Linked DNA regions of Homo sapiens: region 2 is linked to region 1. Evidence: fine-mapped QTL for protein levels in blood plasma. A gene starts in region 1. The other region holds a variant in brackets. All regions are shown on one strand. Distances are from middle to middle.

Region 1 (8,313 bases):
GATGATTTGGGGGTCCCCAGGTACTATGGGGGAAAGGCATTTTTAAAATGGTACTGGTAGCCAGGTGCAGTGGCTCACGCCTGTAATCCCAGCACTTTGGGAGGTCAAGAAGGGTGAATTGCTTGAAGCCAGGAGTTTTAGACCAGCCTGGGCAACACAGCAAAACTCTATGCCTACAAAAAATTTTTAAATTAGCTGGGTATGAGGGTATGTAATCCAGCTACTCAGGAGGCTGAGGAAGGAGGATCCCTTGAGCCCAGGACTTTGAGGCTTCAATGAGCTAAGATTGTACCACTGCACTACAGCCTGGGCAACAGAGAAGACCCTGTCCCAAAAAATAATAATAGAATAAAAATGGCACTAGCCTATGCAAAAGCACAGGTGTGGGACGTTGCATGTCCCATTCAGAAGCCTGCCAGTGATTTGATGTGAGCTGAAGTCCATAGGGACTTAGTGTTAGTGGAGGAAGGCAGGGTCCTCTGGGGCCAGGAGCATGACTCCATCTCAGGTACAGTGAGAACCCAGTGAGGGCAATTATACTAGGAAGCATCATGATTAAATAAGAAAAATCCATCTAAATACATAGTAAGAACTGTCCAACCAGTTCTGTTCTTTGATGGGTGAGTTCTTTGGGGGGAAATATTGCCAAAGGAAATAATCCAAAAGAAAAAGGCCATTTGTCTGAAGATGTCCCAGCAGCACTATTTATAATAATGACAAATTGCTAAAGTCCAGCTCTGGACAAAGTGGCCAGCTCTAGACAATTGTCCTTTGGGAGATGGAGACTGCAGGTCAATGAGGCAAAACTTCAGGTGTGACTCCTACCCACATCTCTCTCACTCAGAAAAGCAAATCAGACTGCCAGGGAGCAAGAGTGGGGTGGTTAGAGGGAAGTTCTGCGCTGCTCTGATTCATATGCTTCCCATTAAATCAGGATTTCTCCAGAGAAGATGGTGGCCAAGAAGCACTTGAAAAAATGCGCAACGTCATTTGTCATTAGAAAATTGCAAATAGGCCAGGCACAGTGGCTCACGCCTGTAATCCCAGCACTTTGGGAGGCCGAGGTGGGTGGATCATGAGGTCAGGAGTTCGAGACCAACATGACCAATATGGTGAAACTGTATCTCTACTAAAAATACAGAAATGAGCTGGGCATGCCTGTAGTCTCAGCTACTCGGGAGGCTAAGGCAGGAGAATTGCTTGAACCTGGGAGGTGGAGGTTGCAGTGAGCCAAGATGGGCCGGCCACCAACTCCAGCCTGGGTGACAGAGTGAGACTCTGTCAAAAGAAAGAAAGAAAGGAAGAGAGAGAGGGAGGGAGGGAGGAAGGAAGGAAGGAAGGAAGGAAGGAAGGAAGGAAGGAAGGGGAAGGGAAGGGAAGGGAAGGAAGGAAGGGAAGGGAAGGAAGGAAGGAAGGGAGGGAGGGAAGGAAGGAGGGAAGGGAGGGAGGGAAGGAAGGAGGGAAGGAAGGAGAAAGAAAAAAGAAAGAAAGAAAGAATTGCAAATAAAAACCACAATGAGATGCCATTTTATATCCACTAAAATGGCTATAATTTTAAAAACTGAAAACAAGCATTGGCGATGATGTGCATAATTAAAGCCCTCATACATTGCTGGTGGGGATGTAAACATGGTGCAGCCACTGTGGAAAACAGTTTGGGGGTTCGTCATACTTGAAACACAGAATTATCATATGACCAGAAATTCTGCTCCTAGGTGCAAAGAAGTAGAAACAGGCCGTCAAGCATCCGAATACTTGTATGCAAATGTTCAGAGCAGCACTATTCACAAAAAACAAAAGGTAGAAATAACCCAAATGTCCATCAACAAATGAATGGAAAAACAAAATTTGGTATATACATACACTGGAATATTACTCAGTCATAAAAAGGCATGAAGTACTGACACATGATACAACATGAGTGAACCATGAAAACTTTATGTTAAATGGAAGAAGTCAGACACAATAGGTCATACACTGTATGATTCCATTTTCATGAAATATCTAGAATAGGCAAGTCCATAGAGGCAGAAAGTAGTTTAGTGACTGCCTGAAGCTGAGAAAATGAGGGAATGGGGAGCAATTGATTAATGGGCATAGATATTTCTTTTGGGGTGATGAAAATGTTTTGGAACTTGATAGAGATGTTGATTGCACAATATTGTGAAGGAACTAAATGACACTGAATTGTGCACTTCAAAATGGTTACTGTTATATAATGTAAATTTCACCTCAATAAAAAGTAAGTCTGGATATCTAAATGGTCAATAAACATATGAAAAGGTAATTAATAATTAGGAAAATGGAAATTAAGGCTACAGTAAGATCAAATATGCACCCATTAGAAATGCTGAAGTTAAGCTCAGTGACAAGATCAAGTGCTGGTGAGGATGTGAAGAAATGGAGGCCCTCATTTCTTGGTAGCTGTGTGGATCTGTACAACCATTTAGAAGACATGCTGGCATTGTCTACTCAGTTGGGGGATATGCACACTCTGATTCAGCACTCCACTCGTAGGTATAGAACCAACAGAAATTCATGCACATGTGCACTGAGAGAAATGTACAAGAATGTTCAGAGCGACACTATTACATTAGCCCAAAATGGAAACAACCCAAATGTTGGAGAAGAATGGATAAGTAACATATGCTATGCTAATGCAATGGACTATTATACAGCAATGGCAATGAACTACAGCCACATACAGCAGCATGAATAAATCTCAAAAACTTATTATTCATTGAAAGAATCAGACATGAAAGAATAGATTCTGCATTTAAAAAGTTCAAAATCGAGTAAAACAGAACTTCAGAATTTTGGGATACACACTTAGATAGTAAAGCTATTTTTAAAAAGCAAGAAAGGGATGACTGTTAATGTCAAGGTAATGGTTACCTCAGAGAGAAAGAAGGGAAAATAAAACCACAGCAAAGGGGTTTAGGAGACCTTCTGGGGATTATCCTATATCTTCATCTGGATTACATGTTTGCTCTGTGATACAAGATTGTACTGTACCTTTAGCATGCACTTTTCTGAATGGATGTTGTATTTCACAATAAAACAGTTTAAACATAAGCAAATAATTTGCAATCATCAACACTTTATTAGCAAGAGCAAATTACTTGTGACACCACCATCCCTACCTGGACAATAGCCCCCTTATCTTCTAAAATATTGGGTATTCCAATGACCCTGAAACTTTACCAGGAAAAGGAAGGATTGGTGTTGTCCTCCAGCTCAACCCTGACCATTGGAGGTACAAGAGGCCATGTGGGTGACACCCACTGACAAGTGTCTCTTTTTTTTTTTTTTTTTTTTTGAGACAGAGTCTCCCTCTGTTGCCAGGCTGGAGTGCAGTGGCGCGATCTTGGCTCACTGCAACCTCCGCCTCCCAGGTTCAAGCTATTCTCCTGCCTCAGCCTCCCAAGTAGCTGGGACTACAGGCGCCCGCCACCATGCCTGGCTAATTTTTTGTATTTTTAGTAGAGACAGGGTTTCACCGTGTTAGCTAGGATGGTCTCAATCTCCTGACCTAATGATCTGCCCGCCCCAGCCTCCCAAAGTGCTGGGATTACAGGTGTGAGCCACCGCGCCCGGCCGACAAGTGTGTCTTTAAACAGGATGGTGTAGAAGGATGGGATTGGCTGCACACAGGACATTCTGCATGGTAGATGAGAAGACTTCAGGAAAAATGGCATTACAGTTGTCTGTGGCCCTTTCTTTCTTCCTGTGAACTATGACCCCTTTGGGGCAGCTCTGTGCCCAAATCCTTTCTGTACCCAGCCAGCATGAGGGCCAGCACAGAATGGGTTTGTTGAACTAAACTATGTGAAATAATCAAACCTCAAACTAGAAAAATATTATTTTGTTTTGTTTCCCAACATTTTAAATTAGGACTACAGAGATGAGTGACTCTTGCCTCTCCACTTCGTAGATGGGAAAACAGGCTCAGAGTGGGAAAAGCAACTCATCTAAGTTCATGGAGGAAGTCAGTGAGTGGAACCCAGGTTTTCCAATACCTGAACTTGTGCTGTTTTAGGGCGTGCAGGATATCAGGAAGTTTACAAAGACCCACTTTTTAACAGATCAACTACCTGCAAAAAACCCATATGCATGTGTTCTACCCCTACCTGAGGAGCCCTGTCCTGGGCCCACAATGGCATTCAGGGATAGTAGGGAGAGTCGATCCAGAGACCTGGAGGTGCAGGCAGAACTCTGGACCCATTTTCTGAGAGAATCAATGCCCTAAGAGGCCAGCAGCTTTTAAGTTGTGAGCTGTGTGCCAGCTCTGTACCAGGCTGGCTAGGAACCCCACCTTGAAGCCCCACCAGATCTGGGGCCTAGATGCTCTGGGAAAATACATTCTTTTATTTAAGAAGCAGCTTTATTGAGGCATAGCTTACATTCCATAAAATTCACCCATTTTAAATGTATAGTTAGATTATTTTAGTAAATTTATAGAGTTGCACAACTACCACCACAATCCAGTTTTAGAACACTCCCCAAAAAGTTTCCTCATGCCCCTTTGCAGTCAATCTCTGCTTCTGTTTTCTGTCTCTGTGGTTCTGCCTTTACAGAAATCTCATATATAGGGACTCTTACAATGTATTGCTTTTTAATGTCTGGCTTCTTTTACTTAGCTTAATGGTATTAAGGTTTATCCATGTTGTTGTAGCATTGATCAATACTTCATTCCTTTTTATTGCTGAGTAGTATTCCATTAAATGGATACACCTCATTTGTTTATCTATTCACCAGCTAATGGTGAATTTAACTTTATTTCCAGTTTTGGTCATTATAAATAATGCTGCTATGAACATACATATGAGTTTTTGGGTGGCCATATGCTTTCCTTTCCCTTAAGTAGATACTTAGGAGTGGAAGTTCTAGATTGTAGGGTAAGTATATATTTAACATTTTAAGAAACTGCCAAATCGTTGGGAACATGTATTTCCGCTCATAACAGCCCACTTACAAACATGCTTTCAGAAGCCACCCCACTTAAGCATACAGCATAGTGGTTACAAGTACAGATTCTGGAGTCAGACCCTCTGGGCTCAAATTGTGCTTATATTACTGAAGGCTACATGCCCTTGGGCAAAAGACTGTGCCTCAGTTTCCTCATCTGTAAAAGGGGATAAGACATGGGGTTGTTGTGATGATTGACTGAGCTCATTCATGGCAGGGCACTTAAAACACTGCTGGTTCATAGTGCTATGAAGTCTTGGCAATTGTTTTTTATAGCCAGTTGGGCAGTGGTCCTATGGAAGGAACAGCACCAGCCCAGAAGTTCACAGACGTGAGAGGGCTATTATGGATCTACCCAGTTACAGTCATGCGGCCTTGAGGAAGTCACATCCCCTCTGTAAGACAGAGCCCAATTTACTTCTCAGCACTGCTGGGTGGTGATTCCAGGGACGTGGTGAAGGTGACATTGTGCTTTGAAGACTGCACAATGCCATGCAATGGACTCATGTTACAATTGTGACATTCAGATTGTGGGGCTCATTGGAGACCATGGAACCCCTAAAGCCTTCTCCATCCGTGAAGCTCTTCTAACTACACACTAGGATGGTTAAGAGCAAGGACTCTGGAGTCAGACTGTCTGGTTCAAATCCCACCCCAGCCACTTAGAAGTCTTGTGACTTTGGACCTCTGTTTCTTCATCTGAAAAACAGAGATAGTAACTGTTCTCAGTCCTCACCTCCTGGAGTGGTTGTAAGGATTGGATGAATGAAATATGAACATGTTCACACCTCCACCTGGATATACAAAGTGTTTTATAAGTATTAGGGATATTAAATTGCATTACAAATGCAGTTTGCAGGAGGATAGTTTACATTTTTAGGAATCGTTTCACATCCCCAAAGGGGCACTGAAAACCCATCAGTTGCAAATGGCCCTCCTTAGACCGTTCTCAGCTCCTGAAGGTTTGCTGGCCCTCCCTTTTTACATTATAAATGGGAATAGGGCTTCCTTTGTGTTAGAAACAACAGCCCTGACACTGAGGGATCCCAGAGACACACACAGGAGGAGAAAGAAACACCAAAGTTCCTATCCCCAGATCCATCTTCCTTTTGGGAAACTGGAAGTTGCAGCAAAGTTCACAAAAGACCATGGAACCCAAAGTTGGCCTCTGCCACTGAGTTGGCAGGGCCCTATATCATATGCAAAATTGCAACTTTCTGACATGAGCCATGGGGCTGAGAAGCTAAAACTATACTCCAGCTGCCCTTTGATCTGCAATAAATGCCAGGCTGGACACTCTGGCAGGAAAAGCTATCATCGGATTTGGGTCTTGTTGCCCAGGAGACAATGGGCTGTCTTGGGCTTCTTCAGGCAAACAAAGAGTTAACCAAGGCCACCTTCTCAATCCCGTTTCCTTTGGGCCGACTAGAGGTTGTTTCCTAGACTTTCTGTTCCCTTATTCAATTGAAGATGTGTACTAATCCCCCAAATTCAAAGGGGAGGGGGTCAGAAGCTATAGAAAGCATGGCTCTTCTGCAAAACTGCATGGAGAAAGAGCTGAGCAAGGGCAAGAGCCTACAGACCTGGATTCAAGTCCTGGCTTTTGGACTGGCCACTTTCTAAGCTTCTCTCAACCTCAATGTTATAAAAATACCTGCATTGCGATGGGATTAATAGAAGCCCAAACCTCAGCACCGTGCAATATACCCTTGTAAAAAACCACACATGACCACTCCCTGAATCTAAAATAAAAATAAAAATACTTGCATTGCTTTCCAACACATAGTTACTGCAAGAATCAAGCAGTAATTTCTATCACTTATTTTGTGCCTAGTATATACTGGAATCATGGGAAGCACATTATTTCTAATTTCTCTAATATTCACAACATTTCTAGGAAGGTAAAATGGTCTAATTAATCGCCTTTTTCAGATGGGGAAACTGAGGCACAGAGCGATGAAATCCATTGCCCAAGATCACTCAGCCAGCCACAGTTCAAACCCAGGCAGTCTGACCTTAACCGAGGCCCATTTTAACTTAGGTCTACTTTAACTTATATCTTACTATTCAGCCAACCGCCTGAGTTCTGCTGGAGAAACTGAGGCCCGGGGAACGGAAGGGATCAGATCTCTGGCTTCCAGGCCACAGCTCTTTCCACCACCGGTGGAGCCACTGCCCATGATAGACGTGACCGCTTAGGTAACTCAGAGCTGGGTTAAGCAACCGAGCAATTCAGTTCCGTTATTTCTTGAGCAGCAAAAGCCCCAGATGTCCCTCCCGGTGTTCATGCTTCGCACCTGTGTGCGGAGAGGCACCAGACCTGCCCTTACCAGAAGCCAGCCAGCACGCACAACCTAAGCTGCTGGCGCTGGGTGCGCTGAGGCTGTTGGCGCTGGCGCTGGCGCTGTTTCTGAAGTCCCTCTCTGCCTAAGATTGGAGGCTCCGCACCCAGCTCAGACATCTCGGGTGCCCAGACAACGCTCCAACCGCCCCAGCTGCCCAGGGATCCCATTCACAGCTATAACCCCTGCACTGCCAGGAGGTAGCCGCCCGCGGGACCGCCAGTGCGCACTGAGTGGCAAGACTCCCTTTTATGTCCAGGAATGAGGCACGCATCGCAGCCGCGTCCGCCGCCAAAACCGACTTCCCCCACGGGCGCGGAGGCAGCCGGTGCCACCCTCCGACCGGGTTGCTTACCTGTCGCACCGCGGGTCTGGGTGACAGCAGGGAGGGGCGTGGAGACCGAGAGCAGCATCAGCAGACACCAGCACTGCCCGTTGTTCCTCCTGCAAGATGTGCCCGAGGGAGAAAAGGTGAGGCGGGCAAGAGTATTGGAGGGGCCCGGGACGCGAGGAAGCAGAGAAGCGGGTCTTACCTTGGTGCCATCTCGCGGGTCTGCGGAGCCCCGGAAGGCGCGCGGCTAGTCGAGCAGAGCGTTGGAGCTTAGCGGAGGACGAAGGGTCGCTGAGCGCTGGCCGCCGCGCTCGCCCTTCCTGCAGGGAACAAAGGCGGCGCTCGGCAGCGGCGGCGGCGGGCAGAATCCCGGCTCCCGGCCCGCGCCCCGAGTCACCCGCGCTCTGAAACCCGACTCCGCCGCGCCCTGCGCTCCCCCGCGCGCTGCGCACTCACGCCCGGGGGATACCGGCCGCCCCGGCCGCCTCCCCACGCCCCTTTCCCCCTCGACGGACGTGCGCTCGCCTCTGCTGCCTCCACCCGCGGCTGCCTTATGTAACCTGCGAGGAAAGCCCCGCGCCCGCGTTCGTTGGGGCAAGCGGGATGGGCTCCCTCCCGCCCTTAAGTCTGTCCTGTCGGGGCTGACCCGCAAGAAAGCACTCTTTCACAGCC
Region 2 (8,330 bases), 71 kb after region 1:
ACACCCGACTAATTTTTGTATTTTTAGTAGAGATGGGGTTTCACCATGTTAGCCAGGCTGGTCTCAAACTCCCGACCTCAGGTGATCCACCCGCCTCGGTCTCCCATATGTTTTGTTTTACTTATTTATTTTGTTAACTTTTATTTTAGGGTCAGGGGTATATATGCAGGTTTGTTATATAGGTAAATTGAGTGTCACAGGGGGTTGCTGTACAGATTATTTTGCCACCAAGACAATGAGCATAGCACCCAACTCACCCTCCTCCCATCCACTACCTTCAAGTAGGCTCCTGTGCCTGTTGTTCCCCTCCTCGGGGCCACGTGTCCTTGATGTTTAGCTCCCACTTACAAGTGAGAGCATGTGGTATTTGCTCTACTGTTCCTGCTTTAGTTTTCTTAGGATAGTGGAGGGCCAATTCTTTTGTGCTGACCTTGCTTGGTTCCAACAGGCATAGAATTATAAATATTTTGCCAAGAGGGAGAACACAAAATGCTTTTCCTCAGCATCGTTGTTGAGAGTGGGCTCTCCTGGCCTCATCACTAAGCCCTCGAGGCCCTTCAAGATGACCTGATCCCATGTCCTCCATGCACAGATGAGGACAGAACACCGCAGCTGGGGAGGTTCAGGACCTCCCCACGGCCACGCAGCTGCCAACTGGCCCAGGCAGAACACAAGTCTGCATGACTCCAAAGTCCACAGCTGTTCACACATCACCTTAGATGCCACCTGGGCCAGCCTGCTCTGTTTTACAGATGAGGAAACTGAGCCTCAAAGAGAGGGAGCCACTTTCTCCAGGAACAGACCTCCATCTCTGGAGGCTCAGCTCTGCTCCTTCTGCTCCAAGCTGCCTCCTTGTAGGTGGCAGAAGAGAAAGTGTCCCCTAAATAAATGCCATGAGCATGCAGCTGTGAACAAAACAATGTCCCCGAGCTGGGTGTCCAACGTCCCAAGGCCATGTGAGGAAAGAGGTTGTTGCCTTTCCGAGAAGGGGGCAGCTGCTGTGGAGCTGGAGCATTGCTCGGCCTCCAGCCTCTCCCAGGAACATAAAACTCAGGAACGAAGGAACGTTGGGCAGGAGCCCATGGGAATGAGGCCCACATTCCCCTCTCCAGGGGCTGCCTTGGCCGCTGATTATGCTCCCAACAAAATCCTTGCTGAACATCTGTATCGTGCAGGGAACTGATGCCTGGCCTCCCCTGCCATAAGGGGCTCGGCACAAGACCCCAATTCTGGGGCTGTCACCTCTGACCCCACAGAGACCCTGACTCTCAGCGGCCATATTCTGACCCTGAAAATCTGGAGTGAGTTAGGGAGAATTTAGACAGATGTGGCTCCTTCCAGTTTCCTGTGGAAATTAAGTGAAACCAGGAGGCATCTCATTCAGGGGAAAAGATGAGAGATGTGAGGAAAACAGAGGAAATAAATACATGAGGTGTTTGTTTGCAAAGCAGTTGTTTCTTCCATGCTCAGCACTCCTCAGAAGGGAGCTGACTTCTGGCAGGGCACTTTGCTGCAAAGCAAGTCCCTGATCAGCTGTCTTCCACCCCTCACTCCCACCACAAAGAGCCCACAGCTCTTTGCGCTCAATGCTCCTGCACACTTCTAGTACTTTGCACAAGCTATTTCCTCTGCTTGGAATGCTGTTCCCTCTCTTCTCTTTCTGGAGAACCTCTATGCAGCCCACATGGATCAACTCAAGACGTAATCCTCTGACTCCCTTCCTCCCACCTTTCCAAGCAAAAGAGGTGGCTGCTTCTTTGAGTCCACCCATCACCCTGTAAACCCCTCCATGGTGATCTTGTCACATGGACTTGAGGGCATGTCTACATGCCCTCTGTCTCCCTTGCTAGTCTACAGCAGACAGTGTGTCTTAATCATCTCTGTATCCACAGTGCCTGGCAGAAAGCCTGGTACAGAAAATGAACTCAATAAGCGTTCAAAGTTTGGATAGAAGGAGAGGGGAGAAATGGCAGGAGGGAAGGAAAGAAGCAGAAGTAAAGAAAAAAAAAATTGGCTTTAGAGTATTTGCAAGTCCCTCTCTTCTTCCCTATTGATTTGAGCCTGTATCTGCCTCTTCTAAATAAAATGCCTCAAAAAAACTCATTGATTAGGCTGTGACAAGGCTCAGCTGAGCAACACATATAACACGGCGTATGCAGAATAGGAGTTCATCTCTCACTCACATGAAAGTCCTTCTGGCCAGATGTGGTGGCTCATGCCTGAAATCCTAGCACTTTGGGAGGTCAAGGTGGGCGGATCATGAGGTCAGGAGTTTGACAGCAGACTGACCAACATGGTGAAACCTCGTGTCTACCAAAAATACAAAAATTAGCCGGGCGTGGTGATGCGCGCCTGTAATCCCAGCTACTCTGGAGGCTGAGGCAGGAGAATTGCTTGAACTCGGGAGGCGGAGGTTCCAGTGAGCTGAGACTGCACCACTGCACTCCAGCCTGGGTGACACAAAGAGACTCCATCTCAAAAAAAAAAAGAAAAAAAGAAAGTCTTTCTGAGGAGGCTGAGGCAGCTCTTTGAAGTCATCAGGGGCCCAGGCTGCTTCTGTCTTATTGCTCTGCCATCCCAAGGGGCTGTACTCATCCAGGTATCCCAGATAGCGCCCCACACATCTATGCTCCATCCACGGAGCAGGTAACGAAAGAGGACACACTCCTCTCTTCAAAGGCACAACTGGAAATTGAGTACAAGAGTCCCTCTTATCTGTGGGGGATGCGTTCCAAGACCCCCAGTGAATGCCTGAAACTGCAGATAGTACCAAACCTATATACACTATGTTTTTCCTATACATACATACCTATGATAAAGTTTAATTTATAAATGAGGCACCGTGAAAGACTAGCAATGTAACTAATAAAATAGAACAATTATAATAATACACAGTAATAAAAAAATATGTGAACGTGACTTCCCTCTCTCTCTCTCGCTCTCTCTCTCTCTCTCTCTCTCTCTCTCTCCCCAAATCACTTACCGTTCTGGACTTTGGGTAACAGAAACTGTGGGAAGTGTGGATAAGCAGAGACTATTGCACGCTGCTTGCCCAGTCCTTCCATGTAGCGCAAGACAGGCTGGGAATTATGGTCTCATGCTGAGCATCTGCACACCAAGGTGAAAGTTTTATTTCCATGTAAAAGGGATGAAATGGATTTTGGAAACAACCAGAAATCTTTTCCAAAACAACAACACACAGAAAGAGAATACCCTTCCAAGCCCCAACATTGACCTTATACATTTCACCATCCCAACAAATCTGTGAGGAAACTGAAGCTCAGGGTGGAAATGCCTTTGGCTGAGGGCACTATGAGCAGTAAAGGAGCATGATTGAAAACCAAATATCTGGTATAAACTGGGATTTCCATCTAAAACCTCACAAATACTACAAAGAGGAAAGGGGAGATGTGACTGCACAGCTGTTTACAGGGAGACAATCTGGGAGTCTGAGTTGACCCCCAGCTCAGTGTATCTGCTGTGTTATGTTTGTCTCCAGAGCTACATTAATGGGGGCCAACATCCAGAACAAACGGGATGAGCGATCTGCTCTCCTTGGGCTGGCCAGACTGCACCTGGAATTCTGTGTTTTGGGGGCCAGCCCTTAATGAGAACAATGAGAAACAGGAATGGGCCTGGGGCCAAGACAGGCTGGGAAGGGTCTGGATGCCCGCCCTGCGAAGAAAGAGCCACAGCTGAACACCATGGAGAGGGGCGAACTCCAGGGGATGTAGATCCTTAGCTTCTCATCTGTGTCACAGAGAGGACATGGTGACCTCATTCCAGGTGGCTCTGAGGAGCAGAACAATGACCCATGGAAAGAAGCCACTGGGAGGCAGAGTCGGCTCCAATAAAAAGAGGTAACTGGGGTGGTGCACCGAAGCCCCGGGCAGGCACGGCAGAAAGTAAGAACTCATCCCCCAGGGTGTGCACCAAGGGCGGAGGTGCTGTAGAGCCTTCTAAGGCAGAATCTTGCACCTGGAGGCTCCTGCAGCTGAGAATGGTCAGGTGTGTCTATGTGTGTGTGCACACAGGTGTGCTCTCCTAGTGACAGGGGCCATGGCTCCCTTGAGGCTCTCCAAGGAGTTTGTGACTCAAACCAGGGTCAATGGACTGGCCCACTGGGTCCTTCCAGGGCCCCTGCCTGCTTTAAAATCCCATGACCAGGCCGGTCGCCATGGCTCATGCTTATAATCCTAGCACTTTGGGAGGCAGAGGTGGATGGATCACTTGAAGCCAGGAGTTCGAGACTAGCCTGGCTAACATGGTGAAACCCCATCTCTAGTAAAAAAAAAAA[T/AAAT]ACAAAAATTAGCCAGGTGTGGTGGCATGCACCTGTAATCCTAGCTACTCGAGAGGCTGAGCCAGGAGAATCACTTGCACCTGGGAGGCAGAGGTTGCAGTGAGCCAAGATAGCACCAGTGCACTCCAGCCTGGATGACAGAGTGAGACTCTGTCTCAAAAAAAAAAAAAAAAAAAAAATCCCATGACTGCCAGTGTAGACGCACAAGTGTCCCGATGATGAAGAATAGGTAAAGAGAGCTCAGAGTGGCAGAAGGAAACTGGGGGCTTACCGGGACTGAAAATGGCTCTGTGAGCTCCACTCCCCAGAGCAGAGTGTGCCCCAAAATCCAACCGCAGGAACCACCCACTTGGCAAGCTTGGAGCATATGCTCCTCCCCTTGCTGAGGCTGGAGTATCTCCAGAACCCCATCTGCAAAGGGTCCAGGGGTTCCACATTCATCACACACCAGCCTTGGTGCCTGGTATGGGTGTGGCCTTTCTCCAGGACACCCCACCAGCCAGCAGGTGTCTTTTTGTTTTTCACCACTTCTTTTTGTCTTCTACAATTAGAGACCCTCTAATGGCCAGGCACCGTGGCTCACACCTGTAATCCCAGCACTTTGGGAGGTCAAGGCGGGTGGATCACCTGAGGTCAGGAGTTCAAGACCAGCCTGACCAACATGGTGAAACCCCATCTCTACTGAAAATACAAAAATTAGCCAAGTGTGGTGGTGCATGCCTATAATCCCAACTACTTGGGAGGCTGAGGCAGGAGAATCGCTTGAACTCGGGAGACGGAGTTTTCACTGAGCCAAGATTGCGCCATTGCACTCCAGCCTGGGCAATAGAGTGAGACTCCATCTCAAAAAAGAAAACAAAAAGACCCTCTAGTTTATTTGATGGCAATGCAGAATGACTTGTAAACCACTGTTCCCAAGCAGCAAGGCAAGGAGGTAGACAAGGAGGGGTGAAAATGGACCACAAACACCTGAGTCCTGGCCCCATCCCTGAATGACCTGGAGCATCCTCTCTTTCCTCACTGGGTCTCAGGTTCCACACCTGTGAGTGTGATGAGGAGCAGACTCTGTGGGGAAGCCGTGCCATGATGTATGTGTGTGCCTAGCCCAGTGCCTGGCACACAGAGGGACCTCAACAGTGTTTGTGGCTCACTTTGTACCTCTCAGGGCTGTTTGGGGATTAAGTGAAAAAAATAAGCAGAGCACCTGGCTCCAAGCCTGGCACATAGTGAACGCTTGATGACTTCCATTTTGTGCCCCTCCTGTGCACACCCGTGCCATGGGCTGAATCACGTCCCTCCCTGAATTCATACATTGACGTCCTAACCCACAGTACCTCAGAATGTGGCTGTATTTGGATACATGGTCTTTAAAGAGGTCATTAAGTTTGAGTGAGTTCATTGGGGTACCCTAACCCAATCTGACGGGTGGTGTCCTCATAAGAAAAGGAGATTAAGACACAGAGAAGCACAGAGTGAATGCCATGTGAACACAGAGACAGAAGGCGGCCACCTACAAGCCACGGAGAGAGGCCTCAGAGGAAGCCATCCCAGGGCACACCTTGATCTGGGAATTCTTGCCTCCAGAATTGCAAGAAAATCAGTTTCTGTTGTTTAAGCCACCCAGCCTGGAGTACTTGTCATGGCAGCTGGAGCAAATGTGGACACCCTGAACTTCTCCAGCTCTGTGCCTTTATCCACCCCGCAATGCTGTCCTGCCCAGTCCTGAGGCCCAAGGCATGCCCTGGAGGGAGCCTTAATGAGCCTTCATCAGAACTTCTCAGACCTTAATGAGCCTGAGAATCACCCAGGAGCTTGTTAAAATGCAGATTCTGCTTCAGTAGGTCTGAGTGGGGCCTGAGAGTCTGCATTTCTAACACGCTCCAAGGGAATGCCAGGGCTGCTGGTCCATGACCCACACTATGAGTAGCATGGTGCCAGATGGTGGGGGGGGCGTTAAGCCAGATGGGTGAGTGATGATGGGAAGTCCAGTGCTCCCTGAGTCGTGGGTGCTGATCGCAGCTCTAGCTCTTTCCACCCCTCAAAGTACAGGAGCTGGAAGAGGAGAAAGGAGGTGGCAACATGGGGCAGCTTTGGGTGACCTTCTCAGGGGAAATAACCACTTGTGAGCCCAGAGAAGCTCCCCTGGAGGACCACCTGCTTCTGCTGTCAGCGGGAAGTCACCTCCAAGCTCCTCTGGTCCTTTAGTCCATCACTTTCTTGACATGGATGGGGAGACTGAGACCAAGATTGGCTACATAACTTTTGGGGGTTGTGCAAAATGAAAACTGGAGGCATCTATTTCAAAAACTATGAAGAATTTCAAGATGGTAACAGTAGAGCATTATACCAAGCATGGGGCCCGTCTAGGCATGGGGCCTTGTGCTCAGGTGGCACACCTGTGAGGTAAGTCTAAGGCAGAGATGGCTTCCCAGTGAGCCAGAGCTCACCCAGCCTAACCTCAGGCCTCCTGAGTCCCGTCACTCCTCTTTCTATCAGTGCACCCCCTCACCCTTGCCCTCCGAACTTGTCTGCCTCCAGGGATCTAGCTGCAGCCAGGCAGGGAGGCGCTGGGGCAAGGAGGGAGTCCAAGACTTGGCAGGCTCCTTCCACCCCAAGCTTAGGAGGCCTGACCTCCTGGCTGCCTTCCCAGACCCACAGATTCCTCTGGCTCTGTGGGCCCAGCTCATCTGAGTAATTCTCTGCCACTTCCAGCTGATGGCACAGGGGTGGGAGATGGCACCCAGAAGGAGGAAGGGGCCCCAGACACAAGATATGCTGACCTCACGATTTAACACCCACTCTGCCCAGGCCACTGGCAACTGATGACAGTTGCTATTGCCTGATTGGCATGCATCTTCTCTTTCCTGCTTCACTGAGCCACTTCTCCCCATGCCTAGTTCAGGTAGTGCTATGTCCGTCCCTGCTCCAAAGGTGGGCATGGAATTCAGGTCCCTCTAATGCCCCTCTCCACAGTGGTACATCAGAGATAGGCCCTTGATCCAAGAGAATCTAGCAAAACTCAATACCTGAACTTTCACTGAAAATATTGAGATTGCTAGCTGTAAGAATGACGGAAGCCTGGAGCTTCCTGGAGTCCCTTCAGGGAGTAAGGAAGGCTTGCCTCAGAATGAAGCCAGCAGAAGGAAGCAGAGAAAAAAAAAAAAAAGCCCTAGGATAGATATTGTTGGAATCCTGGATCCAGCTGTGCCTGAAGTCCCTGACTTCTTAGTTCTGTGTGCCAATAAATTCCATTTTTGCTTACAGCTGGAGTTGAGATTTTGTCAGCAGCCATCAAAAGAATGCAGCATGGAAGTGTGATGGCTCACGCCTATAATCCCAGCACTTTGGGAGGCCGAGGCAGGTGGATCACCTGAGGTCACAGTTCGAAACCAGTCTGACCAACATGGTGAAACCCTGTCTCTACTAAAATACAAAAAATTAGCCGGGCATGGTGGTGGGCACATGTAGTTTCAGCTACTAGGGACGTTGAAGCAGGAGAATCGCTTGAACCCAGGAGGTAGAGGTTGCAGTGAGTTGAGATCACCCCATTGCACTCCAGCCTGGGCAACAAGAGCGAAACTCCGTCTCAAAAAAAAAAGGCAGCTTGGAATGTGTGCTCAGAGGTATCCAAGCTTGTCCATTCACACTTGTAATCCATAATGACCATGGATTCCCCAGATCTGGGAGACCTCACAACACAGTGGGAGTGGTGAACATGAGAAGAGTTGAGATCGTGAGTCACTGTTGGGCGTCCTGGCCTCCCTTCGAAGAGCACTCCTGGGTCTAGAAAGCCCCTTTTTCTTTGATCCATACAACAGCTCTACAAGGCAGGCAGGTCAGGGACTATAACTGATAGGCCAAAAGGGAAACTGAGGCTCAGATAAGGGAAATGAGTTGCTCAAAGTCATACTGGTAGTCAGTGGCAGAGCTGGGTGGAATTAACACTCACGAGCACCTGATTCTGTCTAGATAGCTCGCCTCTGTGCCACCAGAGCAGTCTGTACTCGGCTCAAGATGTATCTACAGAGTAAAG

The links. A credible set is the group of variants that fine-mapping cannot tell apart. PIP is the posterior inclusion probability: the model's chance that the variant is causal. Protein levels are from the aptamer-based SomaScan assay of Sun 2018.
Region 2: its variant is the best candidate, but not a certain one, in a credible set for the plasma level of the COL15A1 protein (Sun 2018, PIP 0.55).

The regions. Positions count from the first base shown.
Region 1 is chr9:98,943,603-98,951,915 of GRCh38, reverse strand. COL15A1 (collagen type XV alpha 1 chain) reads right to left here and starts at 8,009. Exons shown (of 42, transcript NM_001855.5): 1 at 7,844-8,009; 2 at 7,666-7,754. The coding sequence starts at 7,854. It overlaps COL15A1-AS1 (COL15A1 antisense RNA 1), which reads left to right and starts at 7,264. Exons shown (of 1, transcript NR_198999.1): 1 at 7,264-8,313.
Region 2 is chr9:98,872,832-98,881,161 of GRCh38, reverse strand. LOC102724684 (a long non-coding RNA gene) reads left to right here and starts at 3,829. Exons shown (of 3, transcript XR_930168.2): 1 at 3,829-3,860. The variant T/AAAT (reference allele first, on the strand shown) is at 4,298.